Linked DNA regions of Homo sapiens. The protein of the gene in region 1 interacts with the protein of each later gene in a pairwise test. Each region holds a gene or a part of one and is shown on either strand. Other genes may lie near its edges.

Evidence for each region. Proteins that work in one complex are often made in the same cells at the same time.
Region 2: the proteins of CMTM6 (region 1) and RBMX interact in binary tests that used the Homo sapiens proteins (3 or more experiments, as listed by UniProt).
Region 3: the proteins of CMTM6 (region 1) and ECPAS interact in binary tests that used the Homo sapiens proteins (3 or more experiments, as listed by UniProt).

Annotation. Positions count from the first base shown.
Region 1 is NC_000003.12:32,499,841-32,507,540, reverse strand, and holds the start of CMTM6 (CKLF-like MARVEL transmembrane domain-containing protein 6), read left to right. Parts: upstream 1-4,688; 5' UTR 4,689-4,795; coding exon 4,796-4,933; intron 4,934-7,700. UniProt on the Homo sapiens protein: Master regulator of recycling and plasma membrane expression of PD-L1/CD274, an immune inhibitory ligand critical for immune tolerance to self and antitumor immunity.
Region 2 is NC_000023.11:136,872,944-136,877,739, forward strand, and holds the end of RBMX (RNA-binding motif protein, X chromosome), read right to left. Parts: intron 3,713-4,796; coding exon 3,560-3,712; intron 2,643-3,559; coding exon 2,528-2,642; intron 2,441-2,527; coding exon 2,315-2,440; intron 2,226-2,314; coding exon 2,143-2,225; intron 1,510-2,142; coding exon 1,199-1,509; 3' UTR 518-1,198; downstream 1-517.
Region 3 is NC_000009.12:111,362,367-111,369,397, forward strand, and holds part of ECPAS (proteasome adapter and scaffold protein ECM29), read right to left. Parts: intron 6,808-7,031; coding exon 6,669-6,807; intron 4,262-6,668; coding exon 4,156-4,261; intron 3,962-4,155; coding exon 3,873-3,961; intron 1,294-3,872; coding exon 1,222-1,293; intron 933-1,221; coding exon of another isoform or gene 922-932; exon of another isoform or gene 1-921. UniProt on the Homo sapiens protein: Adapter/scaffolding protein that binds to the 26S proteasome, motor proteins and other compartment specific proteins. May couple the proteasome to different compartments including endosome, endoplasmic reticulum and centrosome.

The sequences.
Region 1 (7,700 bases):
AGAGTTACTGCCTCCTATATTACCTCTCTGTTATTATTCTCCCTCAATCTCCTTGTTACCCAGACTTGAAATATTGGCACCTGCTCCAGTTCCTTTCTTACTCTCTAAACAAATCAGTCCTCAAATCTCACTGGTTTTACCTCCAAGGTTCTCTTGGTGCCATCCCCATGATTAACGTCAGAGTTTAAGCTTCTATTCCCTCTCTCCTGAACTTTTACAATAGCCCTTACTTGGATCTCTGTAACCACTGCGCTCAAGGCTACTAGAAAAATATCCCCAAGGAAAAGCTCCGATCATTTCACTCCCCTTCCTAAAACTCGTTGGGGGTTCTTCATTACCCAACAATAATGGAAAGGCCCAGTTCCTTAGCTTGATTTTCAAAGCCTTCCAAAATTTGATCTCGAGCTTATATTCCTTAACTACTCTGTCCTTTCCTGCTCCCTTCATTCACTGTGCCTATGCACACTTTCTTTGCCTTCCTTCATACCACCCTACTGCCTGAATACTTTCTGCCCTGTATCTGCATGTCCAAACCGAAGTATAGTTTAACCCCATCTTGAAGCTCCACTGTAGTGATCCTTTAAACTGAAAGTTATTTCTCTCTGCTCCGAATTAGCAACATATTTAATTTGTATCTCTTCTATAACACATATCTCTTTCTATTTTGTAACATAGTTCTTTGTGGACATTACTGTGGTATCATTGTAGGATAGCGTCTATAATCTAACTTTGTATCCACAGTATTGCCTAACTGTGCTAATACCGATAAGAGGGCCAGTGAAAAATTGTTTAGCAGGAACTGCTGAAAAAAATTAAACTCTGAACTGAAAAAGTAGTACTGAGGCAGGATAGGCAGTCAAGGAAGTGCCCATATCCTCAGGACGCAGCAACCATGGTGACCCCAACAGTCAACACAATAAGCCTCAGCATTTGAATTGTGATTGAACTCAGTCGAGCAAAGCTATCTTCAGTAGGAAATTTCTTCTATAGAGAGCATGAGCACTTTGATTTTACCTGTCCTCAAACTGACCTTTTGCTCATTATAATAGCAAAAAACATGCCCTTGGGTGGAGATTTACAATGCTAATGGGACACCTGAGGGAGGAACATGGGTGCACAGCTACTGCACATGTGCAGCCAGAGGACCAACCAGAAGATGCTTACTACTAGGTTGGTGCAAAAGTAATTGTGGTTTTTGCATTTAAAGTAATGGCCAAAACCGCGATTACTCTTGCACGAACCTAACGGTAACACTTCTTCCCACCTCCTTATGAATAATCATGCAAATAATACATGATTAGCAATAACCTCCAGCAATAATCAATGTTGTCTCATCCTTACGAGCAGCCTGCCCTGAATTCTCTCTCTCTCTCAGGGTGTGATGTCTATTTTGTACTTAGCTTTCAAAATTTTTTTTTCTTTTGCAATAAATTATGCTGCATCTCTTTTGCTGTATGTCTCTTGTTTAAATTCTTTTAAACTAAGAAGACAAGAACCAAGGTCTTGCAACAGCCTCCAACACTACCACATTATTTTTTGAATGGCTGAAGTCCCATCAAATTATGTTCCCCAATCGCTCTCTCTTCTTGTGAATGTTTTTCTTTCTTTTTTTAAAAAATTAAATATCTAATTTTAAAGGAGAACAGTGAATATTCTTTAAAACCTAAATTTAGTGTATCTTCCTTTCTTCTTTTTGTCGTATTTTTTTCACCATACGTAAGATTTCTCATTTCAACATAGTGAGTCCCACCATTTGACTATTGCAAGTTGTTTTATTCATTAATGAGGGTGACAGTTTTCTGTGTGAATATGCCCATCAAAAGAGTTTCCTATACAAGTATTTGCTCATGAAGCACTAACATTTTTATTTGGTCTTTCAATTTATGAAGAAAATGTAAGGGATGCCCATTTCTTTACCTGGGTGAAATATTAGTCTCTAAATCCCAGGCACCCCCAAATCAATCAGAGCAAAGAAAATATGGCACGTCTACTGTCTACTACACAATGGCTTTCACTTTTATCACATTATAAAACAGTGTTTCTCTATGTGGATGGATTTCTTCCCAGATTCACATGAAGAGCTTGTTACGAAAGTATATTCCCAAGCCCCATCTACATTCAGAATCTTTGGGGCTAGATCTCCAAGAATCTTCCTTTTTAATTAATCTCACAGATGATTCTTCGCCATGTTGGAGTTTATGAATCACAGGCTAAATTTGTGTCTTCTTCTAAAAATGCAAAGAGAAGCAGAGACCCCTAGAGAATTGCATAAGTGTGCCCTAAACAAACCAAGAGGGTTGACGAAGTCTGTTCATCTTCTCTCTTGTCTCAAAGTATCCTTGTTTCTTTGTAACTTCCTCCCAATACTTTATTTTGAAAATGTTCAAACATACAGAAATGCTGAAATAATTGTACAGTGGACACCCGTATACTTCACCTAAATATTACCATTAATATGTTACTGCAGTTGCTTTATTAGAGATCCTTGTTGTTGTTGTTTTTTTAACAATGATTTTTTTTTTTGAGACGGAGTCTCGGTCTGTCGCCCAGGCTGGAGTGCAATGGTGTGATCTCGGCTCACTGCAAGCTCCGCCTCCCAGGTTCACGCCATTCTCCTGCCTCAGCCTCCCGAGTAGCTGGGACTACAGGCGCCCGCCACCACGCCCGGCTAATTTTTTGTATTTTTAGTAGAGATGGAGTTTCACCGTGTTAGCCAGGATGGTCTTGATTTCCTGACCTCGTGATCCGTCCCCCTCGGCCTCCCAGAGTGTTGGGATTACAGGCGTGAGCTACCGCGACCGGCCTGCTTTTTTTTTTTTTTGAGACGGAGTCTCACTCTGTTGCCCAGACCGGAGTGCCGTAGCGCGATCTCAGCTCACTGCCACCTCCACCTCCCGGGTTTGAGCGATTCTCCTGCCTCAGCCTCCCGAGTAGCTGGGATTACAGGCACACGCCACCACGCCCGGCTAATTTTTGTATTTTTAGTAGAGACGGGGTTTCACCATGTTGGTCAGTCTGGTTTCGAACCCCTGACTTCAGGTGATCCACCTGCCTCGGCCTCCCGAAGTGCTGGAATTACAGGCGTGAGCCACTGCGCCTGGCCTATCACAAATCTTTTATCCATCTCTCTAGTCATCAACTCATCTTAATTTTGGATGAATTTCAAAGGAACTTTTAGACATCAGTAGTGTCTAATTTGGGATGATAGTGACTTGAAGAATAATGGGGCAATGAATCCTTGTAGCCCTGGTGAAAATACAGTGGCCTTCCTTGTTGGACAGAATTGGTGGCATCTTGGCCTTGGGAGGACATTCAGAGTGCATGTAATCAGAGACAGAAGGGTAGTTCTGGCTGGTTGTAGGTGGCCCCTGCAGGGCAGTATCTACTTGTCTCTATTCATTTGAATGGGAGCTTTTGTTTGTTACTGGAAGAAGAAAGGGAGGTTTGGGGCCACGGAGAAGATGTAGCAGCTGATGGCAGCAGAAACCCCTTCTCTCTTCCATGGGTTTTGAGACTCCAATGGAGAGATGAGTTAGAAGCTGACGTTTTCTGGGTTAGCGTTTAGCAGCAAGGTTTCGAGTCAGACTGCTTAGGCCTGCATTCCAGCTGCTCCTGGCTGTTTGACCTTGGATATGATTTCAGCCTCTTGGCCTCAGTTTTCTCATTTGAAAATGAATGTAACCGACTTTATACTGTCGAACCTACTTTATATTGTTGTGAACATCCTGTAACTCAATCAACTTCAGTTGCTAAAATATAATTACATTCCTTGACAAGTTCACACAAAATTAACATATGTGACTGTAGCAGTTGGTGACCAAGAAAGAGAAAAAGGAAATGATTTTGAAAAGTGAGCCTAAATGGAATTTCGGGAGACGCGGGAGGGAGCGATTCTGAAAGTCCTTACAGACAACTCATTGTACTTCAAATGAAATACGAATTCTTCCCTTGGTCTGCAAGGCCTCCACATTATCTGGCCTTTGCCTACATCTCCAACATCTCCTTTCCTCCCGTACTTATTCCTAGCGACACAGGCCTTTGGGCTTCAGATTGAGTCAAACTCATTTGGTCCTCGGGACATTTGCACTTTCGTGAAAGGCTCTCCCCAGAACTTTACAAGCCTGGCTTCTCACACTTTGAGTCTCATTCAATTCAAAGATCATGGTCCTCAGAGAGGCCTTTCCTGACCACTCAGTTTAGTAGTGGCCATTTAAGTAGAGCACCCAATTCTCCATCCTTTTTTCCTTCTCCTTCCTCTTCTCCTCCTCCTCCATCTTCTTTTTTTTTTTAATAAATTTATCAAGCCACCAGAAATGCTGAATCCATTATTTTCGTATCATATTTTCACGTCACTTATCACTATCTGAAATTGCTATCCATCTGTTTTCTTGTTTATTGTCTGTCTCTGTTACTAGGGATCCTGTGATTTTGGGTAGTACTTGGCTGTCACCCAAGTACCTAGAACGGGGTTCACTGCACACCGAAAGTACGCAAAAATACTAAGTGAATGAATGTCAGGAGGATGAAAGATGGAGGGAGGTGAGAAATCCATCAAAGGCTCACAGAAAGAACTCAATTCTTGGATGAAAGTCGGAAGAATCCCAACAGCTAACAAGCAAATTTGCTGAGAGGGGGCGGGGCGGGCCAAGGGCGGGGGCGGGAAGGGGCGGAGTCAGGCGGAAGCCGGGGAGAAGGCCCAGGAAGTGACGGCCGCCTCCCGGCTACCGGGGACTTCTGGAGTCCGAGAAGTCAACGGCGCGGTTGCTGCGGCCGCCGCGCTCCCCGGCCCGAGGCGATGGAGAACGGAGCGGTGTACAGCCCCACTACGGAGGAGGACCCGGGCCCCGCCAGAGGCCCCCGGAGCGGCCTCGCTGCCTACTTTTTCATGGGCCGGCTCCCATTGCTCCGGCGCGTTCTCAAGGGCTTGCAGCTGGTGAGTCCGCGGTCAGGGAGGGCGAGCCCGGGCTGGGGAGCGGGGTCTGGCCCGGGCTTGGGAGGCCGCCGAGCTCCTTCGTTTCAGCTTGGTTGTTCAGTAAAAGGAGGTTTCCACACCTCTAGTTCCTTCCCTCTCAGCCTGGGGAAGGGGGCGTTACCCTCCGCCCTTCCGCCGGGCGGCCCCTCAGTCCCAAGGCTCTCCCCATCGGGATCCCACGAACTGGGGCCACCCAGCCTGTTAGGCGGGCTCAGGAAATGCGTCGGAGACCCAAGTCAGCCACTTCAACATCTTTCACTCATCCTCTATGGCGACTTTCCTCTCTTCTCTCTGCTGCTACCCTGCATTATCGCCCACAGTGCCTGTATTTAGACTGTGAAGCGCTGTTTATCTTTCTCTGGCTCTTGCGGTTTTCCTGCTGCGAGCCCATGGGGGCAGTTTAACTTGCTGGACAAAGTCCTGCGATACCACGCGTGGCATTGAGATGTGTGTGTATGTGTGTCCGGTAAATTGTCTTCTAAAAGTTTTATATTGACTGGAAAAGAATTATTTCAAAATTGAGCAATATGGGTTCTAAGTGGAAAGTCAAAAGGACAGCTTTTTGTAAGTATGTGCGGATAGCTGAACTAGGACATGGTATGCATCTTTCCATTTTATTGAGTTTATTTTAAGCAGTTGAAGTACCATAAACCTGTTCGTGAAAACATCAAAGCATCTTTGAGATTTAAATTATTCACTTTACAGTCGTGTTGGCTCCTATGTACTGTTCCAACCACTGATGGTTGAACCAGTTTAGGAAAAATAGAAACAGTTTAGGTTCTATTTCTGCAATAGAACCAGTTTAGGAAAAATCCGAATGCTTATGATGTTTATGAGTTTTGTCTTACTTTGTTTTGTTTTTTAACCATTCTAAGTAAAAATTAGCTCATTGGTTTCCTTGGAAAGAACTTAAATTCTTACAACTCAAATGACCCGAAGTTAAATTCTTAGAACTCTAGTGACCTACTTTTATTGAATAGAAAAACAGAAGTCGGAAAATCGGCACTGCTGTTTAGCGATCAAAATGATCACATCTGCTGATGACTGGGAAATCATTTGAAAGCAAGTGATAATGTGGCCTATGGAACCCAGTAGGATCTGGCCTTATCTTTCTCCCAGTCTCCCTCTAGGTGGTTCCACACTGGCCACCTTTAATTTATTACGAGGCATCAGGGGCTCTTTCCTGCCACTGTTCCTTTGCATAAGCTGTTCCTTCTACCTTCTTCCTTCTTCCTTCTCTTCTCTTGTCAGCTGTCACATGATGATTTTTAGGTATTAGCTGTATTTCTCTGCAGTAAAGCTAAAATTTTCTACGTGAATAGTAGAACTCTTTAGAACAGAAAAGAATATTCATCTGAAGCTTTTTTTTTTTTTTTTTTTGAGACCGAGTCTTGCTCTATCGCCAAGGCTGGGGGCAGTGGCGCAATCTCGGCTCACTGAAACCTCCGCCTCCCGGGTTCAGGCAATTCTCGTGCCGAGTAGTTGGGACTACAGGCACGCACCTCCATGCCCGGCTGATTTTTTTTTTTTTTTTTGGTAGAGACGGGGTTTCGCCGTGTTGACCAGCCTGGTCTCAAACTCCTGACTTCAGGTGATTTTCGCCCTCCGGGCCTCCCAAAGTGCTGGGATTACAGGCGTAAGCCACTGCGCCCAGCCCATCTGAAGCATTCTTGCTGCTCGAAAAAAATCATCTGTATTGGTTTGCTGCCCACAAAATCTCCTGTTTTCAGTTGCCTTTATTATTTTCTTTCTAATAAAAAGTGGCAAAGCTAAAGTAAATTTTCTGATTACCTTCTTATAGTTTAGTAAACTGTAGTTTCGTATCTTTGGAATAGAACATAACCAGTTTCCTTCCTTATTGCTGTTATAGAAGAAAACATGGAACACAACCAGAAATTTTTGTGGTAAATGTTATACTTGGACACAGAGAAGATGAATTTGCCTTAAAAGATCGTTAGACTATTATTAGTTCTCCATCATTCATAAGAAGAAATGGAGAAAAAATAAAAACTAATATCTCTTTATGAAATCCATTTATTTGTTTATGGGGAAATTGTCATGTTACAGGAATGCTTTCTTTAATGTGGAGATTTAAAAGTACTTTTTCATTACTGCCTTTCACTTTGATGGTTGTCTTTTTGTTCCTTTGTTTGTTTTGATAATGTCTTATCTCTTCACAGTAACAGTATATTACAGGAATTATCCAGCAAGTCCCAAGAAGGTTACATATGAAGTCGGTAAAAGTTGTCTTCCAGCCTGGGGCTATAGGCAAGGTCTTTGCCTTAACTCAAATTCTTCCTTTAGATAGATTGGTTGTTTTACTTTAAATGTTTAATTTTTTTAAAAAACTAAACAGAATTGCGAGCTCCAGTAAGGAAACAACTGTAATGGAGAAACCCGTAATCAGAAGAGGAGGTGTTTTAACAAGGGACCTGCAAACCCTGTGAAATTTTATTCAAAATATTGTACACTTATATGTTTGAGTATATTATTCTGGACCCATAAATCTTAACAGAATCTCAAAGATCCTACAAGAGAAAAGCCTGCTCTAAAACTTAAAAACCAGACATTGTGTATATACTTAGGAAATTCTTACATTAGAGTCTTCGGAGGTTGAATTGAATTACCTCTGAGGTTCTTTGCACTCTTAAGGTTTTTTTTTTTTTTTCAAACCTCTGAGGCTCCATGGGGTTTGCTATTACAGAACTGAATTGAATATTGAAGGGAT
Region 2 (4,796 bases), on another chromosome or scaffold:
CTTCATCAAAAATGGACTTTGAAAAAAATACCCCCTCCCAAGCCCCAGATCGCCATTGGTAAACAACAGCTCTATTAATAAAGCCTTTAAGTGTCACACATGCTTTAAAAAAAAAAAAAAAAAATCCAAGTGTTGAATTTGGAGGACTTCTAATACGCTATTGAATATTTCTTTTTTCCAAAAGTTTTTTTTAATCTAGAAGGCATTTCCATTGCCTTGAGGTACAGTATGTTTCACTGTACTATGAGGAAGGTAAGTGTTCAATTTCGACTTAGACGGAAAAACTAGTTTGCTTTGCTTACCATCTTTGCTGTTTCACAGGCATTTGATGCTTTAAATCTGATGTGGAATGCTGATAGATTCACTTTTTAGAAGTCATAAGCCTTTAGGAAGTTGGAGATAACTTCATTGCTTATCTATTTTCTCCTTTGCAATCAAGCTGTTCCTTTAAAAGTGAGACACTACAGAGTTGCAAAAATTTGAAACAGTAAGAGCAAGCACCTTTGCAGCTTCATGGTTGGTTTTGGCCAAACTTTTTATTTAGTATTCTGTAGTTGTTTAACACACACTTAAATGGTCTTATTGGGGGAAGGGAAAGGGGAGGTTCTTGCAGATTCCCAAGGAAATGTCAGAAAGGCAAAATGGCCAGCATTATCCATTTGCTTTTTTGGGTTTACTGGGTGAATAGCACTTTCCTTACATAGGCATGTGATTTCAGGTTTTTCGTACTGAGAACATTGAGATTTCAGTTGGAAGACACCCTGAAATCTTATGAGTAGCATACCCCAACCACCCTCTAATAGCTAGCTTGTTTGTATAGGTAGAATGATTCATCTCTCCATTTTAGATGGCTAGATGTTTTGTGGAAGATCTTAGAATTGCCTGCCTCATTTGCTGGGAAAAATCAGATAGGAAGTGGCCTTTAGGGGATACTTTTACTTGGAAAGTTACAACACTAGTACAAGTCTTAACACATTTAACATTTGCTTGTTGAAAAGCAATGCGAAAGTCAAATAAAATTAAACATGTTTTACTTTTTTCCTCACAAGAACATAAAAATTATGGAGGGGAACTTAACAGGGAATTTAAAAAAAGTAACACAATTTTTCCTTTTAGTAGTCCTTGGGTAGTTATGATAGAATAGTTTCCACTTTTTGTTTCTTTGAACTGGGATTTTGGTCCAAAGTTTTGTTTGTTTCTAGTATCTGCTTCTGCCTCCCCCTCTATCAGATCGGCTTCCTCCACGGCCACCACCTCTTGGTGCTCCGCGGCTTGAACTGCTGTAGGAATCACGTGGAGGAGGGTACCCCCTTTCCATAGAAGGGGGAAGCCCTCTTTCTTGTCTGCCAACCCGATCACGACCACTTGAGTAGAGATCACTTCGGCTGCTTGAGTAACTGTCTCGACTTCCACCATATCCGTCACGTGAGCTGCTGTAATCATCATAGCGACTGCTTCCACCATAAGATGGCGGGGGCCCTCGTGTAGGTGGAGCACTACGTGAGTTACCTGCAGGGTCAATGGTCAGGTAATATGGCAACACTATAAATTGTATATATACAACATTTTAAATCTGAATTTACAGAATTCTTGTATTAAAAGTTTACTTTCTCAACTGGGTGGGAGGTTTTAAACTCTGCCATTGCTGGCCATAACAGGGATTTGCTCATCTGCTGAGATATGGAATTGGATTCATTTTAATGTTTGTTTGAAAAGACTGAAGACGGTGTGTATTTCAAGAGGATATTCCAGAGAGCTTGTTATTTTATAGTAGACACTCAGCCACTTTCCAGTGATAAGTTGCAATTTTGAACTGTAGAACTTGCCTTCATATTGCAATGGTAAATATTTGATCTTGTTAATAAAATTTTTAAATTGTATTTTCACTGTTGGGGGAAAACACATAAGGCTGCCAATTTAAGCAAGCAAAATCCCCTCCAAAGCAAGCAAACAGCCTCAAAAGAAACTTAGAAAAACAAAAAAAGCCCCTCACAAAACTAGGAAAAGCCCAGCTGATAAAGTTACCCCTTTAAAAGCAAGCAAACATCCCTTTAAAAGCAAGCACCACACAGCCTAATAAACTGGCTCACGAACCTAAAAACTCAAGCTGGTGATACTAAAGACCCTTAACCAGTATCTTACCATAACTCTCATATGAATCTCTGTAGGAACCTCCACTTGGATGATCTGAATAGTCACGATCACGACCATATCCATCTCTATCGCTAAATTAAAGAGAAACCTTTAAGTCCCAGAGAATCAACTTTCATTGCAACTTTTCTTACATGTAAGCCACAGAAGCAAAGTCACTTACCTATATCCTCTTGATGGATAGTCATCACGTGAACTGGAATGACCATAATCACGGTAAGTATAATCTCGTGGTGGTGGTGCATAATCTCTAGTATCACGAGAACTTGGGTAATCTCTGCTTGAATAGCTACAAAGCAAAAGTTTTGGTTTATGCTTTTGATAAGCTTTCCTTCAACCTTAATTATTAATTTAAAAAGCTGCACTTTTCTATTACCTGTCTTTAGTAGAATACCCATCATCTCTTGGGGACAAATAAACATCTCTACGAGAGGGCAGCGGTTCCCTTCGAGGTGGACCTCCATAACTATCTCTTCCACGTGATACAGGAGCTTAAGGAAAAATATCATTTTTTTAAACATAGCCAGAGAAAAAAGTTAAAACGTGAACTTACATTCAGGCTATGAAAAATAATGAGACTGACTTCAAAGATGACATTACGGAGGCTAGATCACCTAATTTTATTTTCTACAATTTCCCATTCATATTTTAAATTTTTTTCAGTGCTAATTCCATTTATCTAATCACCTAGAACACATGACTAAAAGTTTTGTTTTTTTTTTTTGAGATGGGAGTCTCGCTCTGTCACCCAGGCTGGAGTGCAGTCGCGCAATCTTGGCTCACTGCAACCTCTGCCTTCTGGGTTCAAGTGATTCTCCTGCCTCAGCCTCCCGAGTAGCTGGGATTACAGGTGCCCACCACCACGCCCAGCTAACTTTTGTATCTTTAGTAGAGACAGGGTTTCACCACGTTGGCCAGACTGGCCTCGAACTCCGGGCCTCATGATCTGCCCACCTCAGCCTCCCAAAGTGTCAAGATTACAGGCGTGAGCCACCGCACCCAGACTCCATGAATAAAGTTTTTTTTTTTTGTTTTTTTTTTTTTTTTGGAGACAGAATCTCACTCTGTTGCCACGCTGGAGGACAGTGGCATGATCTCGGTTCCCTGCAACCTCTGCCTCCCAGGTTCAAACAATTCTCCTGCCTCGGCCTCCCAAGTAGCGGGGATTACAGGAACCCGCCCTACACTCAGCTAATTTTTGTATTTTTTAGTAGAGACGGGGTTTCACCACATTGGCCAGGATGGTCTTGATCTCTTGACACCGTGATCCGTCTGCCGCGGCCTCCCAAAGTGCTAGGATTACGGGCGTGAGCCACCACGCCTGGCCAATTAAAATTTTAAGCATCATTCACCTCTCAATTCTTTGTGTTACGGTAGTAGCATAAATCATCATACATGGAACATTTACCTCTTCCTCCCATTCCACTGCTACTGCGAACTGGTCCTGAAGGTGCAGATCTCTTAGGAGGAGGACCCCCACTTCTTGGTGGTGGTCCTCTTTTTACTGGGAGTGGTCCCCTGGAAGAACTCATGTTAAAATTCATGGAATATCCACCGTCATCTGCATCAAAAATAGAAAAGAAAAATATTACTACTCACAAGAATCAAGAAAGATATAAAAGTTTTTTTTTTTTTTTGAGAGTCTCACTGTCGCCCAGGCTGGAGTGCAGTGGCTTCATCTCGGCTCACTGCAACCTCTGCCTCCTGGGTTCAAGCAATTCTCCTGCCTCAGCCTCCCGAGTAGCTGGGATTACAGGTGTGCGCCACCACACCCAGCTAATTTTTGGTGGTTTTTTTTAAGTAGAGACAGGATTTCACCATGCTGGCCAGGCTGGTCTCGAACTCCTGACCTTGTGATCCGCCTGCCTCAGCCTCCCAAAGTGCTGGGATTGCAGGTGTGAGCCACCAGGCTCGGCCACTATAAAAGTTTTCTTTGCTTCATCAAGAATATGACCATTATTGGGCCGGGCACAATGGCTCACGCCTGTAATCCCAGCACTTTGGGAGGCCAAGGCGGGCGGATCACCTGAGGTCAGGAGTTCAAGACCAGTCTAACACGGTAAAATCCTGTCTCTACTAAAAATACAAAAATCCAGGTGTGGTGGTGCATGCCCGTAATCCCAGCTACTTGGGAGGCTGAGGCAGGACAATCGCCTGAACCTGGAAGGCAGAGGTTGTGGTGAGCCAAGATCGTGCCACTGCACTTCAGCCTGGGCAACAAGTGCTAAACTCTACCCCCCCCCCCCCAAAAAAAAACCATTATTGATTTGGGTAGTCTAGTTTCACTTGTACTTGATGGAGCATGCACTGCAGTCATAGAAACTGGGGAAATAAGAACTGAAGGTAGTCTTAAAAAACTTTTTTTTTTTTTTTTTGAGAGGGAGTCTCGCTGTTCCCCCAGGCTGGAGTACAGTGGCACGATCTCAACTCACTGCAACCTCTGCCTCCCAAGTTCAAGTGATTCTTCTGCCTCAGCCTCCGTAGTAGCTGGGATTACAGGCACCTGCCACCACGCCCAGCTAACTTTAAAAAATAAAAATGATTTCATTTTCATGTCCAACACCCTGGCCTATCAATTTTTAAATGCCTTTCCTACAGAGTGAACTACTTGGACAAGAAGTAACACTGTCCACGGTTTAACACCA
Region 3 (7,031 bases), on another chromosome or scaffold:
ATTCTTGACAGTAGCGTAGAGGCACATCAGGGAGTTTCCTCTCCTTCCCCCAGTATCAGTGGGAGTAAGAGAAATAATTACACTGAAGCATAGTAGGAAGAAGGAATTATCAGGGCAAGGCACACTGCAGCAAAAAAGTCATTTCAACAACACCATCGCAAGACCATTTCATAAGATACGGTCAGTTAAAAAAAAAAAACTTCTAAGAAATGTCATAATTGCAAGGTCAGATAAATAGATGACACTCCCTTTTCTTCGAGGAAAGCATCTGAGAACTACATGCACATTGAAATTTTTAGAAAATAAGAAAGTATATCAAATCTTAAATCTTGTTTACAAGGTTCTGTCACTTCCTAGCAATGTGGCTTCAGGCAAGTTTAGCTTGCCTTCAGCCTTATTTTCCTCATCTGGACTATATTAGTACATATCTGGCAAACTGAGAATTCGGTAATACGACTAAGTGCCTAGCTCTTTTATCTCAACAAGGAAAAAAGGGATTAGGAGATGTTTAGCGTTACTCAGTCTAAAAGTTCTGTTTGATGGAGCCCTAAGAGAGGTGTTTTAATTGCTAAGCAAAGATAGAGAAGTAGAAAGAGCAAATACACAAGGTTGCAGGAAAAACGTTTCCATCTTCTACATTCTTAATCCGTGAAAACAATTTGAGAGAGAGAGAGAAAAAAGAAGAGGGTCCTCCTTCTGAAGTCAGTAACAGATACACCACTGGAGAAAATGCTAACAGTTCCCCCCCACCCCACCCACTGATAGACCATTAGAAGAAAAAGAGGTTAGGGGAGAAGAAATAGGATTAAGAAAATTGCTACTGTCAGATTTGATGACTCAGGTAGATAACTGTTAAAAATGTTTTTCCAACTCCACTTTTCAGTGTGTCGTTCTGCTTATTTACATGTACACATGCCACTGTCAACCAATTCCTGTAATTAACCAAGATTAAATCAGGATTCACGATGAAAACAAAAACTTTATTACTTTAAGACAACTATAGCTTAATAATATATTAAAAATATATAAAAGTGTATCAAATTTAAATATTTAGTAAAATTTAATAGTTTTGGCTTTGTCCATTCTTCTTGCATGTGCATACATACTGATTTGTATTTCAGAGTATATGCTTAAGAGTATAAGCAAAAACGAAACAAAAAATTTCTAAAACATATGCCACATGGCTTTATGGTCCCCCAGTCAGAACTAACAACAACTTACCTTCAAGTTTTTTAAGCAGCAATTCTATCACAGATAAAGCTTCTGTTCTCACAGATGAGTAGGTCTTATTTTCTAAAAAGAAATATCATACAGTTCATATGGCCTGCCTGAAAAACACAACCTCCAAGATTAAATTTGTGTTGCTGAAAGAAAGATGTCCAGAAATTACAACTCTAGGGAAGGGTATATCTGATTTTTTTTTTTTAAAGGAAGCTTCCCTTTGCTAAGTATCAAATACTTGAAATGTGTGCTAATGTCCACAGTCTTTACTTTGGAAAAACAAAAACCTGTCAGCCAAGTATACCAATCACCACAACAAATGGCAATATTTAAATGATCCATTTTAGAAGTGGGAGATGAAAAAACTATCTCAAACACAAAATCATCTTCGTATCACGGATAAGAACGATCCTTAGGTCTACATGACCCTCCTCATTTTACCAAAGAACATTATATGACCCAGTGTTTAAGCCGATCAGGGACACCTGGAACTCAGCAAAGAGAGGTCTGTTGGCTGCCTGTTCTTTATCCATAAAAGGATGCTGCTGCCAACAACTGCGAATGAAACATGCTTCCTTGGCATCCACTCTTTGACACGGCGTCTGGTTCATGGTGAAATTGTCTACCAAAAAAATCAACACACAACCAAGCCCAAAGCAGGGTAGGCATGAGATGGGCCTTATCATCTTGTTATGCTACAAAGTACAAAAGTGCTACAAAGAGTGACGGTGACCTGTCAAAAGGACACAGGAGGCAGCTTGAAAGGGCTTCCACTGGCCAAATCTGGGACAACTGGAATAACGAATTAGATTTAAAAAATTAAATTATAAACCATTTGAAGGGGGAAAGATTCCATGAATCAATGCCAGTAACAGATAAATAAAAACATGGGCAGAAGAGAAGAATCTTGCTTACAACAGAATTCCAACTATCAAATGGTGAATGTGGACAAAGTGCTAGAGTTGCAAAATCATCTTAGTAAAAATTGGTTCAGGGAAGAATCATCAATGCATGCTAAATATAGAGAAGAAATTTTAAAGAAGAGAAACAAATTACTTGAATGATCTTAAGATCTGTTCCCACAGGCTACTTATTAGACACAAAAAGAAAACATAGTAACTATCCAGTAGAGAAAAACTGATAGTACCTTGACCAGGTAATCAAAATTAACATCACAAATGATGACAGATGGACACTGTGTGCCTCTTAATGTGAGGACACATCACTTATGTATGTATCCCAACTGGGAATTCACAACCTGGATATAATCATGAGAAAACATCAAACACCAAATGAGAAACATTCTGTTTTTTCAAAAAGGGAAGTCGGGGGGACTTTATTCTTCAAAATTGTCAATGTCCTAAGACAAAGAAAGGCTGACGAAGTATTCCAGATTGAAGGAGACTAAAAATATATGACAATAAAATTCAATAAATAATCCTGGAGGCCAAGGCGGGCAGATCACTTGAGGTCAGGAGTTCAAGACCAGCCTAGCCAACATGGTGAAACCCCGTCTCTACTAAAAATACAAAAATTAGCCAGGCATGATGGCACACACCTGTAATTCCAGTTACTTGGGAAACTGAGGCAGGAGAATCACTTAAACCCAGAAGGCAGAGTTGCAGTGAGCCAAGATCACGCCACTGCACTCCAGCCTGGGTGACAGAGCAAGACCCTGTCTCAAAAATAATAATAACCATTATCATCATCATCATCATCATCATCATCATCATCATCACCTGGACTGGATTCCCTAATGGAGGGGAGGGGGAAAAAATCCTATAAAGAACATTACTGGCTGGGTGTGGTGGCTCATGCCTATAACTCCAGTACTTTGGGAGGCCAAGGCAGGTGGACTGCTTGAGCTCAGGAGTTTTGAGACCAGCCTGGCCAACTTCGTGAAGCCCTGTCTCTACAAAAATACAAAAATCAGCTGGGCGTGACAGTACACACTTGTAATCCCAGCTACTTGGGAGACTGAGGCAGGAGGACTGCTTGAACCTGGAAGGTAGAGGTTGCAATGAGCTGAGATCACACCACTGCACTCCAACCTGAGTGACAGAGCGAGACTCCAACTCAAAAAAAATAAAAATAAAAATAAAGAACATTACCGAATCAACTGAACAAACTAGAATATGAACGATAAACATTTGATTTAAAAAACTGCATCCATGTTTACTACCTAAAGTTGACAACTGTACCGTGGCACACTAAATAATTGAGGAACAAGGGGGCCTGAAGTAAGCAACATACTTTCAAATGGTTCAGGAGAAAAACATGTATATAGAAGTCCAAATGACAAAGCAAATGGCACAAAATGTTAACAAATGATTCTGCATAAAGTGTATACATATTGCAGAGTATTACATGTACTGTCGTTGCAACCATTCTGTAAGTTTGAAATTACTTTCAAGTAACAATTTTGTAAAAATACTTGTCACGAAGGTTTTTCTAAACTAGATGCTAAAATCCTGTTATAGTTCCAGATTTAAATATTCCAGTTAAGGGGTACACATGGAGTATAATAAGTAGCAGAGTCCAGTAGCTATTTCAGAAATTTAGTTCCTAAGACAAAGTAGGAAATATTTGAAGCTCAGCTCCTTAGCTTTAAAATTAGGACTCCCTCATCAGTTTTAGTTTACTACACTCACCTAAAGAATATGTGATTGATTTACAAGTTTCAAGCAGAATTTCAGCCAAAGCCTCAGGATCGGCATGTTCTTCTTCCAAAAGCATTAACCTATACAAATCAGAAAGCAAGGTACAAATGCCAATTATTAAGAAACAGTCTAAAACTTTCCTGTCACAATTTCTATCTGTATGTATCACTGTCACTTTAGCTACCAGTTTTTAAATGTATAAAAATTCCATTGATTATACATAAAATGCTGCGGGGAGGAACAAAATAAAAAACTGAGCCATGAAGCAATTTACCCCTGAAAAAAGGCATTCATTGATTGCAGGACTCCTAGCTGCACTTTCCACGTGCTGAGTTTTAGCCGTTCACACATCAGTTTGCACAGCTCCTGACGATAACAACCTGGGAAAAAAAGACAAGGTGGGACAGAGCAGGAGACAGTATAAAAGAACAAGAGATGGAATAAATGAGGGACAGGCAGAGAGAGCAAGAGAAAGGAAGAGGGAAAGAGAAAGAGAGAAGGTGGGGAGGATAAGAGAGAGAAAAGCAGGAAAAAGAGAAATAAAACAATAAATACTTTTAATTAAAGCCATTGAAATTTCCCCAAAAACTTCAGCATGACTTTGTACTCAATCCCCAAACAAATTTCCTTGATCAGAAACTGCCCCCACAAAGGTGCAATATAATTGTTCACAAATATTCACTTTCAAGGCATATGGTTCTCCATGGAACTGAGAAAGCACTTTAACCACACTCCCTTTGCCCCTCAAAACTCCCTGAATGACAGCCACAGAAAGAACTCTGGAGGCCAGAAGCTCCTCTCTAGATGCTCACAAGCTTCTGCAAATTGCAGGTTTACCAAGAGTCAACAGTGCTTTATTATAAACCTGTTATGCCAACTGCAACTGTAATTATAACTATATAATTAATATTATGCCAACTGATGAATCAGCAGAAAACTCAACAACGAAGTTATTTTTAATTACTGTAGGATTTAGTAGGGCTCAAACAAATGTAAAAATGGGGGGAGGCAATAAAAAATCTAGAATTCTGCACTAGGATTGTCTCATAAGAGCTTGAAATTTCTTTCTCTGTTTTAAAGAAACAAAACCCAGAAATTGTAGATATATATGAGAAGCCAATGTGTAACAGTTAAGTTCCTAAAGAAAAGGCCTTGGTTCTCAATAAATGCACATTTCTATTAACAACCTTCTATGTCTTATATTAAAATAAACTGCTTTATGTTTGTATCATCTTTCTCATATAATTCCCTACTTTAGCTTTCTCTACCTATCAAGGAAAAGTTAATACTCTTTATGGCATCATATTAGTGGACTTCCATGGCAGTCTATAACATAATATTAAGAAATAAAACCACCTGCAAATTTGTATCTTCTGGGAAACCCTTCCTATAAACATAGCAAATATATAAGTTCACACAAAGGATGACAGGGCTCAAAGAGAACCTTAACTGATTCTAGACATATCCAATCACAAATAATCAACAGTACTTTTTATAACATTCAATAATATTGTCGCTGGGCATGGAGGCTCATACCTATAATCCCAGCACTTTGAGAGGGAGGCCAAAGTGGGAGGATCACTTGAGCCCAGGAGTTTGAGACCAACCTGGGCAACATAGCAAGACCTCACCTCTTCAAAAAAAATTTGCTGGGTGTCGTGGCATGCACTTGTAGACCCAAATACTTGGGAGGCTGAGGCAGGAAGATCACTTGAGCCCAGGAGGTAAAGGCTGCAAGAACTGCACCACTGCACTCCAGCCTGGGCAACAAAGCAAGACCCTGTCTCAAAAAAAAAACAAACAAAAAAAAAACGAATACTAAGATCTTCAGCAGGATGCACTGTAGGACCCAACACAAGGCAAGCTTAAAGGGTAGCATCATCACTTCTTGGCCTTTTGGCTAAGATCAAGTGTAAAGGGTAGTATCATCCCAAGGTTAAGGCCCTGTCAGGGGACTCCAAACTAACTGCAACCTCATCCAATAATAGAGGTTTACTGTTCATTTAATCTTTGGGAAATACATGTCCAGTTCTGAAAATTGTCCAAATAGTAATGAGTTTTTCACTGAAACAGGGATTTCAGTTGCTTACTGAACACTTGGTAACAAGACCATTCATTTCAGGATAAAGAGACCCTGCTAATAAACTTTGTGCATTCCTCTGAATAGAGCTATGATCATCAAGAAGATCAGTAGAACTCGTCTATCAAACTATCTGCATAAAATGTATCATGGTTATTATAGGTGGAACTGTGCCCCCAAAATTCGTATGTTAAAATACTATCCCCCAGTACCTCAGAATTTGACTGTATTATTATTAAATAGAAGACAGAGCCTTTAAAGAGGTCATATGAGTGGGCCCTAATCCAGCGTGCCTGGTGTCCTTATAGGAAGAGGTGATTAGGGCACAGAGACACCAAAGACCACGTGAAGACACAGGGAGAAGACAGCCATTCCCAAGCCAAGGAGAGAGGTCTCAGGAGAAACTAACCCTGCTGACGCCTTGATCTCGAAATCTCAGACTTCTATCCTCCAGAATTGTGAGAAAATAAATTTCTGCTAAGCCACCCAGTCTGTGATACTTTCTTACAGCAGCCCTAGCTACAGCGGTACAATGATCAGTGAGATCACAGACTCATGTAGACAAAAAACTTTCACTGGATAATTCTCATTATTAATCAATCAGGCTCGATAAGAAACAATAACTATAATTTGTCATAGAGAAAATTCTTCGCTCTCATTAAGTAACCTCTGGTTACAGCACTTCAAATGCAGTTTCTGGTGCTTACGTTGGGTCTCCGCGTTTCGCGGCCAGGCTTTGCCCAGGCTTTCAAAGGCACCCAGCAGATATTCCAGCTGGAGCTCCTTTTCCTTTTCATTCTCCTCTTCATTTTTGGTTGTCCGGACCCCACTGCTTTCAAGTGAGTTCTAGGATATATCAAAGAAAAGAAAATGTAATATTTTCTTCTTCAAAGTTACAGGTATACTATTAAAGCTATCAGGGTACCAACCAAGGCAGGAGATATTAACCAAGAGTTAAATGATAAATTCTCTACCATAAGTTTCCCTATTTACAACAAGAATTTATAACCAGAATACTGTATCTCTAATAAATTTAGGCAATACTTTACAGGCATCTGTAAACAAAAGCT